Linked DNA regions of Homo sapiens: region 1 is linked to region 2. The links come from fine-mapping of genetic effects on gene expression. A gene starts in region 2. The other region holds a variant in brackets. All regions are shown on one strand. Distances are from middle to middle. Region 1 overlaps ADAMTS9 (ADAM metallopeptidase with thrombospondin type 1 motif 9). Region 2 holds the start of ADAMTS9 (ADAM metallopeptidase with thrombospondin type 1 motif 9).

What was found. PIP is the estimated chance that this variant, and not a neighbour inherited with it, causes the effect.
Region 1: its variant is the best candidate, but not a certain one, in a credible set for the expression of ADAMTS9 in fibroblasts (GTEx, PIP 0.58).

Annotation. Positions count from the first base shown.
Region 1 is chr3:64,664,996-64,667,908 of GRCh38, reverse strand. All of the region lies in intron 3 of ADAMTS9 (ADAM metallopeptidase with thrombospondin type 1 motif 9), which reads left to right. Among named protein-coding and RNA genes, the nearest start is that of ADAMTS9-AS2, 18 kb to the left of the region's middle. The variant C/T (reference allele first, on the strand shown) is at 1,665.
Region 2 is chr3:64,686,699-64,689,611 of GRCh38, reverse strand. ADAMTS9 (ADAM metallopeptidase with thrombospondin type 1 motif 9) reads left to right here and starts at 1,612. Exons shown (of 40, transcript NM_182920.2): 1 at 1,612-2,069; 2 at 2,644-2,913. The coding sequence starts at 1,955. All of the region lies in intron 1 of ADAMTS9-AS2 (ADAMTS9 antisense RNA 2), which reads right to left.

The DNA of each region.
Region 1 (2,913 bases), 22 kb after region 2:
AAATATTTTCTCAAGTTATTTCAAGTGTCCCTCAGTTTCCTCATTTCTGAAATGAAGGTAATAGTTCCTACCATATCGGGTTGCTTTGAGGAATAATCAAGTTAATCCATATGAAGTGCTTAGGAGAGTGCCTGACACAGAGAAAAGCAACTCAACAAACGTTGGCCAGTATGATTATAGCCTATAGTCATTGTTGTTATCACACTTAGTTGAAGGAGCTACAGAATGGAGAATGAAAAGGACACAGAAGGGCTTTTGGGGGTAGTGCACCCAGCTCTCATGCCCAAGTCAGCAAATTTAACTCCCCAGGTAGCTGGAGGCACCCACCCCCTTAGAAGGTATTGAGGGGACCCTCAGACACCTTCCACTGCCCACCACCGCCCCTTAAAAGCCAAGAAGCTTCTCAGTTGTTGCCTTCCACTCGCACGCCCTTCTCTCCCTGAGAGGGAAGCCCATCCACACATCCCACCTGCGTCTTGTTATAGTTCTAGTGATGGTGCTGTCCCCATCACTTGCCTCTTAACTTGGCAAAGATCCCGTAAGTTTGGCAATCATGCGACTCAGCACATGTAAACTGGTTTCTTTCCTGCAAGACTTCTCAGGGCTCTTAAAATGCTAATGTGCATGGAGAAAGTTCCAGATGTGCATGCTGTGTTAAGTGTTTTGCAAAGTTAATTGATTTGTTTTTGGAACTATCTTATGGGACTAATGTTCCATAAACCACTCTCATGGAAACATAGTTTATAAAGGTTCAGGCCAGCCCAAAGTGAGTCTTAGCCACAATCTCTTCTGCCACCACTCTTTGTATTTATTTACTGTCAGCACTGTGCATGTAGCACTACTTGACACTGGGCACATCACTTAAAAAAATAATAATAAAACAAAAAAACAACAGCTCACACTATTATTTGTTTGGTTGATTTTTGTTGAGACAGGGTATCCCTATGTTGCATATGCTGGTCTTGAACTCCTAGCCTCAGGCATTCCTCCTGCCTTCACCTCCTAAATTTCTGGGATTACAGGAGGATCCACTGCACCCCATCAAAGATTCTTTCTAAAACAAAATTGTTTTGTTTGAGAATGTCAATATACTAATTTATAAAGATCAGATGTTTTGCATGCTACAAGTAAAACAATACCACTAATAATTATTATTATGTTAAATATGTATTGGACCTGTCCTCTGTGTCATGCCCTGCTTTAAGGGCATTTTATGTATTATCTCTTTTAATCTCCACAGTTACTCTTTGCAGTATGCTGTTATTACCATCATTTTACAGATGAGGAAACTGAGGCTTTAAAGAAGGAAATGACACAAGAAAGGGCAACTAGAGTAGCTTTAGGGGAGGAATGGAAACCAGGGTTGGCCTGGCTCCAGAATCCAAGTGGAACACCACAGATGATTCCTGTGCAGACTTCCTTCTCTCTGTCAAGCTTGGGTGGAGCAGAAAGGGGTCTCGCCTTGCTCCTGAATCCTCCCTTTGGTCCTGTGCTCTGTGAAGTCACAAGGTAGCCCAGCGCCTTGAGGAAACTCAGTTAAATTTTGATAAACCTTACAAAATAGAGAGCAATAATTAACTTTCCAACTGTTAATGTTAACATTCAGATCTCCTCGGCCCAACCCCATTTGGTAGGAAACACTTCAGTGAGTAACCACTGAATAA[C/T]GAGGCCTGGCTGGTATTTGCTGAAATAATTCCAGTTATTTAGTAACATACTGTGCATTTTATTGTATTGCAACGTGAAGTGAAGCTCATTTAAAACATTTTTACCAATAAATCAGCAGATGTTAAAGTTTTTTGCTGTGAGGTTTTTTAAAATAAGGATACTATCTTAAATTTTTGTAATCCTTTTTTTAAAAGATTGGACCCACGTTTTATTCTTGTTTTGTCATTGCTGTTGTTTATTTCAACTTATCTAGCCCAGTACTTGGCACAAAATCGATGTTCCACGAGTGAATTTTTTTAAAAATGTAACTTATAATTTATAAGAAATTCTCTATATGCTTTCTTATTTAATTCTCAAAATAGCCATAAGATGGAAGCAAGTATTTATATGCCCATTTAAAGGTCAGGAAACTGAGGCCCAGAGAAGTGACTCAGAAAAGAGCCTTCATATGGGATAGTAGGGTGAAGACCAGCCCTCAGCACTTCTGGTTTTGTAGTTCCTCCTTTTTTCACAGTATTAAAAAGTTGGATGTCAGAAATGCAATCAGGCACACTCTGTGCTGATTTGCCCCACTAGGAGTATACAGCTCATGGCTTTGAAATTGTTAATGTAAGCCAGAAAATTGTTTTTAAGCACACTTAGTCACTCTACCTTAAATGGTTCCTTTTAGTTCCAACTCACTTTATGACTTTGTGACTGGCAAAAAATAGAAAAATATGATAATGATATTTATTCATTCGTTCCTATGCACTAGGCACTGTGCTAGCCCTTTGCATGCATGATCTCCAATTATTCCTCAAAGCCACTCTATGAAATAGGTACTGTTCTTACTCCACATTGTAAGTGGGAGGACGGAGGGTGAGCAGGAGTCAGTTATTTGCCCAAGGTCAAATAGGACTTAAATCGGGCCTCCCTCCCTTCATTGCATGAGTTCTTCAAACATTGGCTGTTTGTGGCAGTGTAAGCGTGACTACTTCCCTTTTGTGAGCATCGACGCCAAAGTAGTTGCAAAAGCCTGTATTAACTCATGTCCTTGTAATAAAATGTGAGAACTGTAATACCTATGATGTGGCGATAGGAAACATACAGTTGCCAGTTAGAGCTTTTTTAAACACGTCTAAATTTATTTAGATGCATATATGAGGATTCAGATTGCTAAGTATTACACTTTTCTTCTAATGCAAACATGCGTTTACTACTTGGAGGCATCAATATGCTATTTTAGGATTTGAGCTGGGCCAGGTTCTT
Region 2 (2,913 bases):
ATGCCATTCTCTAAAAATCTCTAATTGTGCACAATACAGATGTTATTTTTCCATCCTTACATTTTACATATCCATTATGAAATTCCAGTAATAAGACGATGGTAACATTATCAATTTGGGTTAACAATTATTTAGCAAATTCGTCTTGCCAAGTCATTTTTACCCTTCACCAGAAGAAATATATGTATTAGTATCTCAAGAATAGTTGACATTGCTAGCATATTGCGATTTGGTTCCTGGTGTTGGCAATCTTTGGTATTTCTAGTCCTGAGTGCTAACCTACCACGCAACAGAACCTCAACCCCCGTTCTAGGATACTTGGGCAAATATATATTTATTAGTCATATATTTATATATTTTTAACGATATTGTCATGTCTTTCCTCTTGAAATTATCTTGAAATTCTATCTTCCTGAGGGCTGGTTAAAGAAAAGGCGCCACTGAACCACCCAAGATTGAACAATTCACACACACACACACACACACACACACACACACACACACGAAGGTGTAGCTTGAAGCGCCTGCTTTCAGTCTTTCCCAGTCTTTCCAAGCATCTCTCAGGCTGAAAGCAAGCGGAAGTGATTGAGAAATCCCTCCAGGGACTGGTGCCTCCCACAGGGATCTACAACTTTACACTCCATCCCCCCTTCCCCTCCCATCTCTAAACCCCCTGGTAGTGAGGGGCGCCAGAGTCCCCGCCCCTTCTTGCTGCCAAAATTTGTTCTTAACCTTTTTTGGGGCAGGGGACCTACAGAATGCTATGGACCCTCCATGAATGGTGACAGAGGTTGGTGGAAAGCACAGCTTAAATATTTTGCGAAATTTTCAAGAGACCACGTATTAGAAACACACTCCGACCTGCAGGATTAAGAACCCCATTTCTAAAACTCTTGACTTGGGGTGATTAAATCGAGAGCGGAGCTCAGGTGCCAAATCTCTTCCCGAATGAAAAAGTGTAGGAAGGGAAGGCGCTCCGGCGCTGGGCCACTTTCACTTGTAAGAAACCAAAAGATGGGGACTGGTGGCAAGAGATGGGGACGGAAGAGAAAGGAAAGGAAAAGGAGAAATGTGAGAAACAGACAGGGACACGGTGGGGCGGGGAGAAGACAGACATCACAGGGGAAAATGGGGAGAAGGGACAGAGTCCGAGAGGCACAGCAGCAGAGAGACAAGGGGGAGGAGGAAAAAGAGACTCGGAAGGGAGGAGAGAGAGGAGAGGAGAGGAAAAAGACGAGAGGGGAAGTGGCTGCACGCGCGCCAGGAAAGGGAGAGAACTTTCCCTGCTTTCCCTCCCCGGGGCAGGGAATCTCAGAAAACCCCACTTCAGCGAGGTGGCGGGGACCAGGAACAGCTGCCCCGGCGCTGGTGACGCCTCTGGCCTCCGCCTCTTGCAGCCGGCAGGGCCTCCGGCTGCGAGTCCCGCACGGGCCGGCCGAGGAGGGGACATGGTCTGGAAGGAGGCGGTCCCCGTTCGTCTCGCTTTCTCCTCCCCTCTCCTCCTCTTAGAGGCGTGCACCGGGGGCATTTGAGAGGCTGTGGACCCGCGGCCCCCCCGCCTCCGCCCCCCCAGCCCCCCATTCAAGAAGCCGCTCAGCTATCCCGGCCAGCACAGGGCGCCCGGCGCGCCTCGGAGCGCAAGTTCCTCGCCTTCTCCTGCCCGCTCGCTGGGCATTATGCGGCCAAGCAGCCGAGCCCCAGTCCTCCTCCTCCTCCTGCTCCTCCGGCTCCTCCTGCGGCCCGAGCGGCTCAGCTCTCGGCAGGCGGCGGCGTTGCTCAGCCGAGCGCAGACGGGACCCTCGCAGCGAGACCTCAGCGACTCCTAAAGTCAAAAGTTGGCGGCGGGCGCCGGGCTCCGCGCGCTCTCCACGGCCGCTGCCTCGCGTCGCCGCCGCAGCCAAGGAGGGCAGGAGGGAGGGGGGTGGGGGCAGCGGAGGGAGGGGTGGGAAGCACCATGCAGTTTGTATCCTGGGCCACACTGCTAACGCTCCTGGTGCGGGACCTGGCCGAGATGGGGAGCCCAGACGCCGCGGCGGCCGTGCGCAAGGACAGGCTGCACCCGAGGCAAGGTAACCAGGCTCCGGCCCCCGGGACCCCGCCGGCCCCGACGCCGCCTCCCGGTCCTCGCTCCTGGGCAGGGGCACCCCGCAGCGGAGGCTTCTCTCCTTTTCCTAGAAAGAATTATCTCCCGCTTTGCAGCCTCTCCCTTCTTTGGGTCATCCCCAACCAATTGCTAGGGAGGGACACTATGGAAACGAATTTAGGCAACCCCCCCCTACCTTGCTGTTGCCAGATATATCCCCATCCCCACTCCCACGCCGCAAACTAAAGTAACTTAGTAATTGGGGGCACCAGATAGCGTCATGTTTTATTTTATTCAGGTTATTTATCAATATCTGAAATCATATATATTTTGACTTGTTAATTGTCTGGCTCGGAATAGTGTATCCTCAGCACCTAGCACAGGTCCTGTTACTGGCACATAGTAGGTGCTCAGCAAATATTTGTCCACTGATTAAGGGTGAAGGGATTGACTCGAATGGGCTGGAAAATAAGGTCAGAACAAAGTCCCCACCTTCGTTTTAAATTAAAGCTTAAGGAAAAATGAATTATTGGTTCATATACCTCTGCTTCTCTCCGCAGTGAAATTATTAGAGACCCTGAGCGAATACGAAATCGTGTCTCCCATCCGAGTGAACGCTCTCGGAGAACCCTTTCCCACGAACGTCCACTTCAAAAGAACGCGACGGAGCATTAACTCTGCCACTGACCCCTGGCCTGCCTTCGCCTCCTCCTCTTCCTCCTCTACCTCCTCCCAGGCGCATTACCGCCTCTCTGCCTTCGGCCAGCAGTTTCTATTTAATCTCACCGCCAATGCCGGATTTATCGCTCCACTGTTCACTGTCACCCTCC